4 linked regions of the Homo sapiens genome follow. The protein of the gene in region 4 purifies or fractionates together with the protein of the main gene of each other region. This does not show direct contact. Each region holds a gene or a part of one and is shown on either strand. Other genes may lie near its edges.

What was found. Proteins that work in one complex are often made in the same cells at the same time.
Region 1: the proteins of TRIM6 (region 4) and USP10 purify together in Homo sapiens (affinity purification with mass spectrometry, with the first as the bait; one large-scale study listed by BioGRID). This does not show direct contact.
Region 2: the proteins of TRIM6 (region 4) and EIF4B purify together in Homo sapiens (affinity purification with mass spectrometry, with the first as the bait; one large-scale study listed by BioGRID). This does not show direct contact.
Region 3: the proteins of TRIM6 (region 4) and ALB purify together in Homo sapiens (affinity purification with mass spectrometry, with the first as the bait; 2 studies listed by BioGRID). This does not show direct contact.

What each region holds. Positions count from the first base shown.
Region 1 is NC_000016.10:84,773,000-84,776,499, reverse strand, and holds part of USP10 (ubiquitin carboxyl-terminal hydrolase 10), read right to left. Parts: intron 1,341-3,500; coding exon 1,275-1,340; intron 1-1,274. UniProt on the Homo sapiens protein: Hydrolase that can remove conjugated ubiquitin from target proteins such as p53/TP53, RPS2/us5, RPS3/us3, RPS10/eS10, BECN1, SNX3 and CFTR.
Region 2 is NC_000012.12:53,012,956-53,016,455, reverse strand, and holds part of EIF4B (eukaryotic translation initiation factor 4B), read right to left. Parts: intron 1-3,500. UniProt on the Homo sapiens protein: Required for the binding of mRNA to ribosomes. Functions in close association with EIF4-F and EIF4-A. Binds near the 5'-terminal cap of mRNA in presence of EIF-4F and ATP.
Region 3 is NC_000004.12:73,417,787-73,421,286, reverse strand, and holds part of ALB (albumin preproprotein), read right to left. Parts: intron 3,200-3,500; coding exon 2,976-3,199; intron 1,781-2,975; coding exon 1,648-1,780; intron 1,034-1,647; coding exon 989-1,033; 3' UTR 966-988; intron 196-965; 3' UTR 1-195. UniProt on the Homo sapiens protein: Binds water, Ca(2+), Na(+), K(+), fatty acids, hormones, bilirubin and drugs. Its main function is the regulation of the colloidal osmotic pressure of blood. Major zinc transporter in plasma, typically binds about 80% of all plasma zinc.
Region 4 is NC_000011.10:5,602,914-5,606,873, reverse strand, and holds part of TRIM6 (tripartite motif-containing protein 6), read right to left. Parts: intron 3,629-3,960; coding exon 3,139-3,628; intron 2,341-3,138; coding exon 2,245-2,340; intron 1,538-2,244; coding exon 1,307-1,537; intron 1-1,306. Other genes in the region: TRIM6-TRIM34 (tripartite motif-containing 6 and tripartite motif-containing 34), read right to left, coding at 1,307-1,537, 2,245-2,340, 3,139-3,628.

The sequences.
Region 1 (3,500 bases), on a different chromosome or scaffold from region 4:
ACCCACAAGCGCGTGGTGCCCATGGCCGTCCCATCTGAGGCCCAGCAAGTTGAGGAGGAATTGTGATCGGGGGGAGAAAAGAAGAGAGTCAAAAGGAACAATGAATAGTGAGAGGAAGAGAGGGAAGCCTGGCACCTTGCAGTGTGGCTCTGGGCCTCACCCACTGGGCCCTCACCCCTGGGCCCCCACCGCTAGGCCCTCACCCCTGGGCCCCCATCCCTGGGCCCTCACCCACTCGCCAAACTTCCTAAAACATCGGGCGTGAGCTGAGGTGGACAGGAGCTTGAAGCCCTGCTCTGCCACTGCAGGCCAGAGTGGTGAGTTTTCTTCCTTGAGTTCTGGTTTATTCTTTTATAAAACAGGGATCCCACCTCCCATCTCCTAGGACACATGTAAGGAAATGAAAGAATATCTTGGGAAGAGGTTCAATACATGTGTGAAGGTCAATAAATGGCAGTGTTATGTTACGATACAAACAGGTTCACCAAAGGCCACACCAGAGGAGGGAAGACACAGAAGCTAGAAACATGTAGTAAAAACAGCCTGGGAAGCAAACAAAAGTGCGGCAAACAGCAACAATCCAAAGAGGTAAAGACTCAGAGGCATAAAAGATGACGCTATAAAAGAGAAAGAAGGATAAAAGGGAAGGCAGAAAGGAAAGGGAAGATGATGTGGCAGAAAAAATGATACTGCAGGGAGCCTAAGCCAGGAGACAGAAGAGGTCTCAAGGTCCACCCATGAGGGAACAGGGGGTGCCATTCACCCTGTTGGGAGATTTCTCATGACTGACTGAGGGCCTGGCAGCCGAGGAGCTTGTGTAATCGGGCCCACCCTCTCAAGCAGCCCTAACAATACCTGTGGGGGAGGACGCAGGGATCACCGGCTGGGGGCGCGCTCACCCAACCTGGCTGGGTGACCAGGTGTCGTGGAAACTCCACAGCACTGTCACCCACAGGTGCCACAAGCACAGCCGGGAGAGGTCACATTCTCAAACAGCCAGCCTGGGAGCCTGAAACTCCCTCCTCTGACTCAAAGACAGAAATGTTCGCTTTGAGCAAGGTCTTCTGTTATCTGTCCTCAGGGCCAAGATGATAATCCGTCATCTACGCAGAGTTTCAGGTAAAACTCTCACGTGACTCCCCGACTCACAAGGCCACAGGGATACCTGAGTACAGCATCTGGTCGCTATGCTAAGTTGCAGCAAACCTGTGCCCAGCTGTAAACCCCTTCATCAGTGTTTTAATGAAGAAGTAATGTCGTACAAATTTACTCACCTGCAAAGAGCCGATAGGTTCGGTGGCATTTAAAATTCTTATTTTTAACCCCTGGAGAAAGCAGTTCTGGAAAACAAAATATCAATGGCTTGAAGCACTTTTAGAAAGGTTCAGGGTAACAGCAGCAGAAAATGGCTAACAACATTCTCCCCAGCAAGTAAACTGCCTGTCAGACCAGGAACAAAACAACACTCTATCCCTTCAGTTGCACAAAAATTGACTCATGAAGGAAATGAGCCATGTGACGTAATAGGACACAAAATGTGCAGCCAGCTCACTAAAGAAACAGGAGCAACGGCCGAGGCTGTGATGCTCCTGTGGGAGGCCCCTTAAAAACAGGTGCTCTACAAAATGGAAAAGAAAAAAGCTGCTGACTTAAAAACAAAAACAGTTGTGAAAAATCCAAGGCAAGAATTAAAATTTTACATATGCGTCAGATCATAAAACTTCAATTACAGGCCAGGCACGGTGGCTCACGCCTGTAATCCCAGCACTTTGGGAGGCTGAGACGGGCGATCACGAGGTCAGGAGATCGAGACCATCCTGGCTAATACAGTGAAACCACGTCTCTATTAAAAATACAAAAAATTACCCGGGCGTGGTGGCACGCGGCTGTAGTCTCAGCTACTCGGGAGGCTGAGGCAGGAGAATCACTTGAACCCGGGAGGCAGAGGTTGCAGCGAGCCGAGATCGCGCCACTGCACTCCAGCCTGGGTGACAGAGCAAGAAAAAAACAAACAAACAAAAAAAAAACAAAACAAAACTTCAGTTACAGAACAGTAACATGATTTCTCCAAATAGGAACCAGTCTACCAGCTGCTACGAGGCGGGAACTCCCTGCTCTTACTGTGCGCAGAAGTACCACTTACACCGACACAAGAGTCCGTCGGAGGCATGCTGTTCGAGGCAGCCATCTGTACTTCTGACCCATGACCCAAGTGAGGTCCTCTTGTCCCCCATTTATGTTATTTATTTATTTTTTTGAGATGGAGTCTTGCTCTGTTGCCCAGGCTGGAGTGCAGTGGCATGATCTCAGCAACCTCTGCTTCCCAGGTTCAAGCGATTCTCCTGCCTCAGCCTCCCAAGTAGCTAGGATTACAGGCACCCACCACCATGCTAGGCTAATTTTTGTGTTTTTAGAAGAGTTGGGGTTTCACCACGTTGGTCAGGCTGGTCTCGAACTCCTGACCTCAGGTGATCTGCCTGCCTCGGCCTCCCAAAGTGCTGGGATTACAGGTGTGAGCCACTGCGCCCAGCCCCCATTTATGTCATATTTTGATAATGTATTGGAGGTGGCAGCGGATATAAAAATACAGCAAGCAAGAAAAGATATAAAAATAAAATCACTGTAGCAAAACATCCAAGTCAGCTCAGACAGCTGATCTGGAGGCGAGTGAAGATGCAGGAGCAGAGGCCGAGGATGCCTTCTTTGACTTAGCCGGCATTCCAGGTTTCCCGATGGATAGAATAAAATGGGGAGGAGGATCTGTTACATGATTCTCACTGGCATCTTTCTTCCTCTTGCTGGTCCTCAAATGGGATTAAAAAGCAATCGGCTGATGAGTGATAAGGCAGCTAGAAGTGTGAGAGGAGCAACGGACACTAAACCCGGCACAGCAGCCAAGCCCGTCAGCAGAAAGCACAGCTCTTGTGTGCAGGCCTGGGAGAGACAGTGTCTGAGTCTTCACGGGAAGGTATAGGGCGCCCCTAGGGTAGACAGGGAGCCGGCTAGAAGCCAGCCATGCCCACAGTTCCTGGGTCATCTATATGGAAGGAGGTATGAGGTGGGGTTGCTGTGCCAGGGGACGGAGAGAAGAGGACTCTCGGTTCAGGTTTGTTCCTCTGCAGGACCCAGGAGTGAGGCCCAGTGTCCTCTTTTCTGCTTCCCAAACACCTCGATATTCTGAGAATCCTCTCTAGCTAATCACAGTCCCAATCAAGCCTCAGTGTTGTACTATACGTTTTCACAAATTCTAAAGCTTTCAAGAAAAGTCTTCTTGAAGCTGTGCTTTTAGCAAGATGCCTTTAACCTGGGGCTCTTTAAAATTGCTTTCAAAAAGTGCCGAGCCCGTGACCTGACAGAGACTTGAGGCTGGTAAGTGCCACGTCTTATTTGTGCGCCACCACAACTAGAGGTTAGAAGGGACTCTCACTGCCTATGAGAAATCATTCTTACTTCACTAAAAACCACTTAACTGGGCTAGTCAACACAGCTGTTAATACTCG
Region 2 (3,500 bases), on a different chromosome or scaffold from region 4:
AGAAAGATTATTCACCAATACTCAGGTATTTACAGAGTTGTACAATGCAATATTGTAAAACATTATTTAGAAAGAAATAACATGGACGCTCCTCAAATGGTTAAATTATGGCATTTCCATGAAGGGGTACTATGCAGACATAAATAAGAAATTTAAAAGTTGCAGAATACCTATTATGTGTAAACACATGTTTACGTACGGAAAAGGGTCTGAGTGTTTGAGATACACCCTGGAGAGTATGTTTGGAGTGTGGGGGCAACCTTTTATTTTCTACTATATTCACTTATCATTTGAGATCTTTAATTTTGTAACTACTTCTATTCAGTTACTACTTTCACTGCTCTTTGGATAAAAAAGATCAATAAAAATTCGTATCTCACATAACATATTCAGTATGGCAGTTTTGAAGACTGTTTTGACACTTGTAAACAAACCATATAGGGAAGGAATCACAACTGTCTTTTTTTTTTTTTTTTTGAGACAGAGTCTTGCTCTTGTTGTCCAGGCTGGAGTGCAATGGTGCCATCTCGGCTCACTGCAACCCCTGCCTCCTGGGTTCAAGCAATTCTCCTGCCTCAGCCTCCCGAATACTTGGGATTACAGGCACCCGCCACCATGCCCAGCTAATTTTTTGTGTTTTTAGTAGAGACGGGGTTTCACCATGTTGGCCAGGCTGGTCTTGAACTCCTAACCTCAGGTGATCCTCCTGCCTCGGCCTCCGAAAGTGCTGGGATTACGGTGTGAACCGCCACACCCGGCCCCATTTTTTTTTTTTGAGACAGGGTCTTGCTCTGTTGTCCAGGCTGTAGTGCAGTGGTGTGGCCACGGCTATCTGAAGCCTCAACCCTCCCATGCTCATGTGATCCTCCCACAGCCTCCTCAATAGCTGGGACCACAGAGGCACACTACCACGCCCAGCTGATTTTTAAAAAGTTTTTTAATTCCCTATGTTGCCCAGGCTGGTCTCAAGTATCCTGGAGGATCCCAGGCTCAAGTGATCCTCCTGCCTCAGCCTCCCAAAATGCTGGGATTACAGGTATGAGCCATGGTGCCTGGCCACAACTATCAATTTACAGAAAAGGAAACTAAGTCTCAGAGAGGTTAAGTGAAACACCAGATGTCTGTAAAGTTACAGAGACATTAGATGGCTAGGCTGAAGATAAAACCTAAGTTTTTTTCATACGAAGTCTAAGGCTCTTTCTATATACCAAGGTATCCTTGCATCTCAGCAGCTTATTCTATGTCAGGTTATCAAAACCACAGTAAAACGTACTGCTATTTGAAAGTGTTCAAATGTTAACAGTCATATTCCCTAGATCTCTCTGCCCTCTAGAAAAAATGTCCTCCTCTACTATAACAACACTGCATATGAGGATGTAATGCTAAAAGGAAAACACACGAAAACCCTAATAACCAACACATTTAAGTGTTTCCCACAGTTATGGAATATTTAGTAATCTCCAAATGGCTCAACTTAGTGAACTGACACTGCTCTTTCTTTGTGGTCCTCAGAACTTCCGAGAAGTCACCACCAATCAAGAGCTGATTCAGAAGAGCAGAGGGACTCAGTGAAGTTCCAGAACTGGCCTGATAGCAGCCACTACATGATTAAGAAAAAAACAAGCAGCTTTGTTGTAAAAAAGATTGGCTTCATGGTTTTTATAATCATGAATTTCTCCTCCATGTTCCAATTGTCACCTGATTTTTAATCCAAGAATATCAAACTTGATGTACCCCTTTGTTTAACTGAAGGTTGCTTTCTCACTTGGTATCCCTTTCTTTCAAAATTTAACTTTCAGGAAATAAAGGTAACCAGTTTGCTATGAATGTTAACACATAGCCTTCTGGACACAATTAGAACCTGAAGTATTACGGTCTCAATGTGCAAACCAGATGAACCCGGCTAAAATAATCAAAGTTGACCACGAACATGGTATTTTCTGTATCTCTCAAGTGACTTAATATTAATCCAGCTCCAAAAGTATTGTTTATGATCAACCAGATCACATTTTGAATCCATCCTACGCTTTTTTTTTTTTTTTTGAGACGGAGTCTCGCTTTGTCATACAGGCTGGAGTGCAGTGGCGCGATCTCAGTTCACTGCAACCTCCGCCTCCCAGGTTCAAGCAATTTCTCCTGCCTCAGCCTCCCAAGTGGCTGGGACTACAGGCGCGTGCCACCACGCCAGGCTAATTTTTTTTTTTTTTTTAGTTTCACAGTGTTAGCCAGGATGGTCTTGATCTCCTGACCTCGTGATTAGCCTCCCAAAGTGCTGGGATTACAGACGTGAGCCAACGCGCCCGGCCTGCTTTTTCTTTTTTCTTTTTTTGCAGTGGTGCAATCGTGGCTCACTGCAGCTTTGACCTTTTGGGCTCAAGCAATTCTCCCACTGTAGCCTCTTGAGTAGCTGGGACTATAGGCATGCACCACCATGCCCAGCTAATTTTAAAATTTTTTGTAGAGGCAGGGGTCTTGCTACACTGCCCAGATTGGTCTTCAACTCCTGGCCTCAAGTGGTCCACCCGTCTCAGCCTTCCAAAGTGCTGGGATTAGATGTGAGCCACTGCACTTGGCCTTATTCCACAGCTTTCAAAGAATACGGTTACAGAGAGGTTGGGTCTCATAGCACTTTTATTGCTGCAGCTCATATGCAAAGGTTTTTTTTTTTTTTTAGAGGGAGTCTCACTCTTGTCCAGGCTGGAGTGCAGTGGCGCCATCTTGGCTCACTATAACCTCTGCCTCCCAGGTTCAAGTGATTCTCCTGCCTCAGCCTCCTGAGTAACTGGGATTACAGGCATGTGCCACCAAGCCTGGCTAATTTTTGTATTTTTAGTAGAGATGGGGTTTCACCATGTTGGCCAGGCTGGTCTCAAACTCCTGACCCCAAATGATCCACCCACCTCGGCCTCCCAAAATGCTGCGATTACAGGCATGAGCCACTGTGCCCAGCCTCATATGCAAAGATCTATGGGAGATTTTAATAAGCGAACACGAGTAAGACATGAGGTAAACCACTTACAGTGCGTGGGCTTATTTTAGACTTTTTCATATCATTTAATTCAAAAATAGTGTCTGGGATTAATATGATGCTAGCTACAGATCCTTACCCTCATGGGGCTTAATCTAGTACCATCAGCTAATATCCAATTATTAACCTGTCCTTCCACTGGGAGGATAAAAACAGAACTGGTGGTCAGTACAATAAGGTCAAGTTCAACAAAAGAACATTAACAATCTGAATAAGGTATCCCTTTCCTCTTTGTTCTATATACGTATCTTCTACCAAAACAGCAGAATGTGGAATTAATCTGCCCTTTAGTCCGATTTGGCTTAAATCAACTTTGTAGATCACAGTTTCTCAACTCTCACCCCTTGACTCCTTTGACAAACAAGTTTCTTCTTTAACGTTATTTGAAATTTCCAAACAAATTAAATATCATGACTAAAAAATATTAAAAGCACTTTTAAATCTTAGAATGTCTTTTCAAATCACAAGTCTC
Region 3 (3,500 bases), on a different chromosome or scaffold from region 4:
TTTGAAAAATAACAGTGCTGTACCACTCTATTAGATTCTTTCCATTTTTTATTAATTGAAGCACAGAGAAAAGAGGCAAAATGATTAAAGAAATTTATGTTTTTTAGACAGGGTGTTGGCTTTACACCAACGAAAAAGAAAAACAGATGAATAAGCTTTTGATCTTCATTTTCTTTCTCTTATTCTCATGGTAGGCTGAAAAACAAAAGGACAAATATAAGTCTTATTTGTAAAATGGCATGTGTTTTTCAAACCTATTAAAATAAATGCCAAATTACTTAGATCATCTTTCTGCAATTTACACCAGTGAAAACAATTTAAGCCTGTCCTAGACTTACGGCTGCTGAATTCTTCTGTTGGGCTAGGCAAGGGGACACACCAATAAATGTTGTCATAAGAAGATAAGTCCTATTAAAGCTCAGCATGTTGACAAATTGGAAATGTAATAGCAGATTCTTCACTATAAAGTTCACAGAAGGTAGATCCATCATATTCTCCAATGGAAAGGATGAGTTGAACTATTAGGTTGAACCATGTGAAATCACTGATATTCAACTGTTTTTGCCCTATAAAGCACTCTTTCATGTGGTTCAGCCTAATTCCCAGAGTATTCCACTGCTGAGCCATCACTTACTTGGATGGCTCTGTGTACCGCATCATATAAGTCAGAACAGGACAATGGGCAACACTGAAACTTTGGTTTCAATTTTGAATTTTGACCCTTTGGAAAATTACTTAATCTATGCTTTGATGTTTATCTTCATTTTCTCATCTACAAAATAGAAATAATAGTGGTTCCCAACTCAGCAACTATTTTGAGAATTTTAAAAGCTAATATTTACATACATAAATAGTTTAGAATAGTGGTCGGTGCTGGTCTATATGGCTCTTGGAAATGGTCAATCTTTGCTATTTTAATAATAACTATTATAGTTACTTTTTTAAAAAATTCAAAATATAGTTACCTGAGATGCTTTTAAATGTGATGTTATAAGCCTAAGGCAGCTTGACTTGCAGCAACAAGTTTTTTACCCTGAACACAAAGACATGACAGATGTTAGGAAAATATTAGCATTACTATTAGGATACAAAATTAACATTTATGAAGCTATTGATGATTGCAAAGTGATTTCACGTGCATCATATCCTTTAATTACAATTTACTACTATAATCTCTGGACGGAAGCTCACGGACATAGTTGTCCCCAAATGAATAAAAAAAAGTTACTGTCAGGCCATAAAGGGCAATTTTAAGTGATTTAGACATTTGAATGTAAATTCTCCCACTAGCCTATAAAATCAACTAAATCACAAACCACCACATTTCAAGTAAATGTTTAAATAAATTAATGTTTTGATTTCATGATCAAAATATTTCAGGCCTTACAAATATTCCTATTAATATTCATAAGCATCACAAATTTGGAAACAGAACAGGCATTATAAACATTTAACAGTATGGCACAATAGAGCAGGAGATAAAAACAAAGTGCTGTTTTATTCATTTTGTAAGACAATTGTTTGTAAAATAAGATCCCTGTCCCACATGTACAAAGCCTCCTTTGATATATAAATCCCTAAGCCCTAGCCTAACCAAACATGCAAAAATGAATACTGGACATATTAAAATGAAGAGAACTGTAGTACCTCCTCGGCAAAGCAGGTCTCCTTATCGTCAGCCTTGCAGCACTTCTCTACAAAAGCTGCGAAATCATCCATAACAGCTTTCAGTTGCTCTTTTGTTGCCTTGGGCTTGTGTTTCACGAGCTCAACAAGTGCACTGAGTTTGAATGGAAAAAGAAAAAAAAAAAACAGAAAAAACATTACTCACGTATAGAAAAATGGAGAGAGTAAGGATGGTAGTCCCATCATTTAAGATTATAAATCTTGGAGCCAGGCAACTCTGAGTACTTTGGGGCTCAGGCATACCGCTATAAGTCTCAATATTCTCATCTGCATGATGAGGATAATAAAATCCACTTTCATGGAGTTGGTGGGAAGACCAACTGAAACAATCAGTATAAACCACTCATCACGTTATGTAGTGTCAACAAATTTCTTTTCAGTAAATCTCTGAAAAGAAGTATGTCATTGCAATTATATATTATTCAGATTTTGGAAGTGCCATATTATGTCATATTGAGTTTTATTGCTATTAAAGAGCTAAAAATGATCCTTAAAAATTTAATTATCTTGGACTTTATTTAAAATTTTTCTCATCTATAAAGATGAGAAACTTTATATTTGGTTCTTAAACTTTGCTCCCTTCAAAGCTAATAGTGGGGAGGCTATAGAAAATAAGGCTATCCAAACTCATGGGAGCTGCTGGTTCTCTTTCACTGACATCTGCAAAGACAACAATGCCAGGGAGAGATTTGTGTGGGCATGACAGGTTTTGCAATATTACTCTTAAGCCTAGACGATGATTACAGCCCACAAGAGATGACAGCAACTTTCTATAGCTAAATTTTATGCAATTATAACCCCTGTGATAGCAATAGGGAGTTGAGCTTCAGGGCTTGCATTTCTACATGTTTTTTATCCAAGTCTCATTCTCAAAAGTCACATCTTGGGGGTTTGTCTCATGTGTGGGGCCACCATAGGGCAAACTTAAAATAATTATTTACATCTAGAAATAAATTCTCCTATGGTTCCCATTAACTAATTTGCCATGTGCACAAATTTATCAGTTAATTGTTCATCTTTTTCTACTGAATATGGCCTAACATGTTATTCTATTGTGGCTTTAATCCACAATATTACTCTGAATAATTTTAGCAATATTATAACAGAGGATTTTGTCTTTAAAAAGTTATTCATTTTATTCTGGGTACTCTTATCAGCATAATAAGGGCAACACTCCAATACTTTCCTCTAAGAAATATAATCACTACTTCAGGAAAAAGTTGCTAGCTTGAATTGACAGTTCTTGCTATCAAGACTACAAACACATGCAGTAATGAAATACTCCTCACGTTTGTTTCTTGATTTGTCTCTCCTTCTCAGAAAGTGTGCATATATCTGCATGGAAGGTGAATGTTTCAGCATTAAACTCTTTGGGAACGTATGTTTCATCGACTTCCAGAGCTGAAAAGCATGGTCGCCTGTTCACCAAGGATTCTGTGCAGCATTTGGTGACTCTGTCACTTACTGGCGTTTTCTCATGCAACACACATAACTGGTTCAGGACCACGGATAGCTAAAGAACAGGCAGGAGAGCAGAAATTCAAAAGAGGTGAAGCTGAAAATTTTCTACTAAAAATACAAAAAATTAGCCAGGCATGGTGGCATGCACCTGTAGTCCCAGCTACTTGGGAGGCTGAGGCAGGAGAATGGCTTGAACCTGGGAGGCGGAGGTTGCAGTGAGCCGAGATGGCACCACTGCACTCCAGCCTGGACAACAAAGCGAGACTCCGTCTCAAAAAAAAAAAAAAAATTATCATCCTCGGGGCCTTGACTGCCAATATCACACATACACACACGTGCATGCACACACACAT
Region 4 (3,960 bases):
AGAAAGAACAATGTCTGTGATGGGAAAATTCCAGAAAGTTTATTTTTAGAAAAGACTACTCAAGTTTAAATGTCCGTGGGGCAGTCATACTAATGAATGTGGAAGTGTCTAAACTAGCAATATGAATTGACGATTCATTTGCATTTAAAAAATATTTACAGTTTGAGGACTGTTGAGGAGCCAGAACAAAAGGTGAAGGAGAAAGTATCAGGGTAATAATATCAATGATGAGGACAAAAAGGCAAGAAGAATAAAATGAAGATGCAAAGCAGGAAGCAGTGAATGAGAAAAAGCTGTAACAGGCAGAAAGTAGCTACCCATGGCTCTAATACTAAGACCCAAGAATATGTAAATAAACAATTATTCCACCAAGAAAGAAGGAGCAAGAGGAAAGCACGAAGACAAACAAAATATAAAGAATATCTTACACTCTGAAGGTTACAGAATATCACAAGCTACATCATGCCTCAAATTCACAACCACACTATTCATTCTATGCAGAAAATAGCTGCTAGAATTTCAACCTCAGTTCAAGTCCCTCCATCAAATCTCTCTAGGCTTGATACCTTGTAATCTGCGACCTACACACATACAGACCAGAGCCCAGACCCCCAAAACCAGTTCAAATATCAATTGCTACAGTATGTTAAATGATTCTGCTCTAGAGAAGAGAGTGAAAACAAAGAAGGGCTGGTAATACATCATCTCTAAGAATTTAGCTTGGCGTAAGTGTGCCTGTGACTAAGCTGGGTAAGAAGCACTTGGCAAATTCCCAACACAGCATCAGAGACGAGAGGTGCCTAATGAACAGTGGTTCTCAACTGGGAGAGCACTGTGTTCACCCTGGGGCTATCGTGGCAATGTCTGAAGAAATTTGGGGTTGTCACATCTGGGGTGGTGCTGCTGACATCTAGTGAGCAGAGGCCAGAGACGCTGCTAAGCATCCTACAATGTACAGGAGAACCCCACGCAGCAAAGAATTATCCAGCCAGAAATGTAAATAGTGCCAAGACTGAGAAAGAAAGAACAACATCACTGGATACAACAGAACTTCTCCACAGCATCAAATAAACTTTTAGACAACCCTTTATAAATAAAAATGGGACTTTCCCTTGCATTTGTACTCTGAATTATCTTACGCTTTACTCCATACCTCTAAACAGTTTAATAGGGGATAGGCACTATAGCGCCAAAGGAATGTTTTCTCTTGTCCCTGCAACGATGGTAGTCTGATGTCCCAGAAAGGAAGGAAAGTTAGTTTCTCTTTTCCTTGACTCTCAGATCTGGGCTCCTTCACAAGCCTTACCTGCAGCAGCTCCATTGTTGACCCCTGACATCGACGCTCCAGATCCGAGATGAGCTCTCGCAGCGACTGGGTCTGGTGGACCAGATCATTCTCAGCCTCTTCTATAATTCGTAGCCCCTTCTTCTCTTCCTGTTCCAGCTTTTTCAGCTCCCGTTGCTCCACTCTGTCTAGGATATTTCGCAGCTGATTAAACTCTGTCTGGATCCTGCATCTCTCAGGCTCCATCTGATTCTTCAGGAACAGGGAAGAAAAAGAGGCTGCTAGTCGGTCACACTGAGGGTCTCCTCTATTAAAAGCGGGGAAGTTGGGCTCAGGACTGCTTTCCTGGGCCAAGCCTCCCAGGGAGAGGGAGGGTAAATGCTGCAGGAGAAAGCCTTTGTAGCCTGTTCTTTCCTTCTTTTCTCCCTTCAGCTCTGCCCAGACCATTGGCCCCGGGCTGCTTTATCTAGGCCATCTAGACATCAACTGTGATTCCTGGGTGACGTTTAGATTCCAGGAAGCCTCCCTCACCTCTGCATCAGCCTCCTCTTCCAATTTCGAGTACTGAGGTGGAAATCACTGGCCTGTGACTAACCTGTCTCAGATCTGGGCTTCTTCACAAGCCTTACCTGCATTTTCCCTTGCATTTGTACTCTGAATGCAAGGGAAAAGCCAAAGAGACTGAAACTGTAGAGCAAGACCCAGAATTATGAATTGGGGCGACCCCTAGCCATGGTTCCTCTGCTATGTGATTGTCTCCTAGGTTCAGTTTTGATATATTTGCTATTTACCTCCTCTCCTCCCCCTGTTTGGAAGGAATATAGTGGAGGACCAGGCAAAGGGAAGCTCTTCTAGTCATGGCATCAGAGGACAGACAGGACAAGGACTCCTTTGCCCTCAGCTCCTATGACCTGCCATGATTCCTGCCCCAGGACATCTTCAGAAAAAGTCTCCCTTGCCTTCCAGGATGTTTTCTTCTCTCTGATAAAAGCTGTTAGCTTCTCAGCTTCCTGCTCCTCGTTCTTCAGCTTCTTTAGAGACTCCTGAAACTTCTCCTTGAAGAAAACAAATCAGGTCAAGCAGGATCAAGCCTTCAGTTGACTCAGTACCCAGACATAGAATGAATGGGACAGAGATTCTGCTAACCTCAAAAGAAGCCTGTCCTAACCTAGGATGAAAACTTGAGAGGGCCAACAAATCTTTTATATATATACATGGGATGAAAACCAACAGGGATAGGCTGATTCTCCATCCCCCTTGGGAAGGTGCCTGACCACAAAGCACCTGTGGCTCACGCCTGTAATCCCAGCACTTTGGGAGGCTGAGGCGGGTGGATTGCCTGAGCTCAGGAGTTTGAGATCAGCCTGGGCAACATGGCAAAACCCCATCTCTACTAAACACACACACACACGCACACACACACACAATTAGCTGGGCATGGTGGTGCACACCTACAGTCCTAGCTACTTGGGAGGCCAGGCACGAGAACTGCTTGAACCCGGGAGGCGGAGGTTGCAGTGAGCCGGGATCGCACCACTGCACTCCAACCTGGGCGACAGAGCGAGACGCCTTCTCAAAATAAATACATGAGTAAATAAATTCCTTTACCTACCCTGCCAACATATCTCCACACTCAATCAACCAAGTACCCCTTTTACCCCAAGCAGCTCTATCTACTCAATCTGGAATAGCAAGTAAATGATAAAGAATCTATTCTTAATCAGGGAGGCAGTTTCCAGGTTCATTCTCTAGGTAAATAAAGACTACAAAGAGATTAGATCAGAGCATGATAAAACGTTAAAACCTGCCAAAGACCCTGTTTCTCTGTCTCCCATTCCATCCTGGGGTCTCACCTGGTACTCCTGGGCAACCTCCTCCACGAGGAACGTGTGGTGACCACGGTGCTCCTGAGACCGCTCACAAAGCCAGCAAATGACCTTCCCATCCTCCTGACAGAAGAGCTGCAGTTTTTCTCCATGGTCTGCACAAAGAACTGCTTTCAGCTGCTTCCCAGGGCCCAACACTACCTCTCTGAGCCGCCTCACTATGTTGGCCAGATGCCGATTAGGCCGCAGGTTCCCTGGCTGGTAGCTGGTCTGGCACACAGGGCAGCTTCTTTCCCCTTCTTGACCAATCACTGATTCCCTGCCATTTGGTGTGATGCAGGCTTGGCAGAAGCTGTGGCCACAGTCTATGCTCAGGGGTTCTGTTAGGAGCTCCAGGCAGATAGGGCAGGTCACCTCTTCTCGTATGTCCACCAGTACTGGTGAAGTCATTGTAGCTACTCTCCTGGCTCCTGCCTGCCCAACCCTGATTTCTAAGATGTTTCCTGCCTGTAGAATCCTAGGTAGATGAACAAACAAAAAAAGGATCAGGGTAAGAAAGGAGGGAGAATAAGGGAATACTGACTGCCCAGTCCTGGATAAAGAGGTCAGACACCTGGGGTAACAAGGGCTTCTCATTCTCATATCCAATACGTTCTTTATCCCGGCTCATACAAGGCACCAATTTCTCCCCATATTAAAGCAGTGATAATTTCCTCTTGCTCCTATTGAATAGAGACAAACTGAGGCCCTGGAAAGGAGGGGCCTGTGTGAGTCACTGTCTGTGTGATCTTTTCTTTTTTTTCTTTTTTGAGATGGAGACTCACTCTGTCACCCAGGCTGGAATGCAGT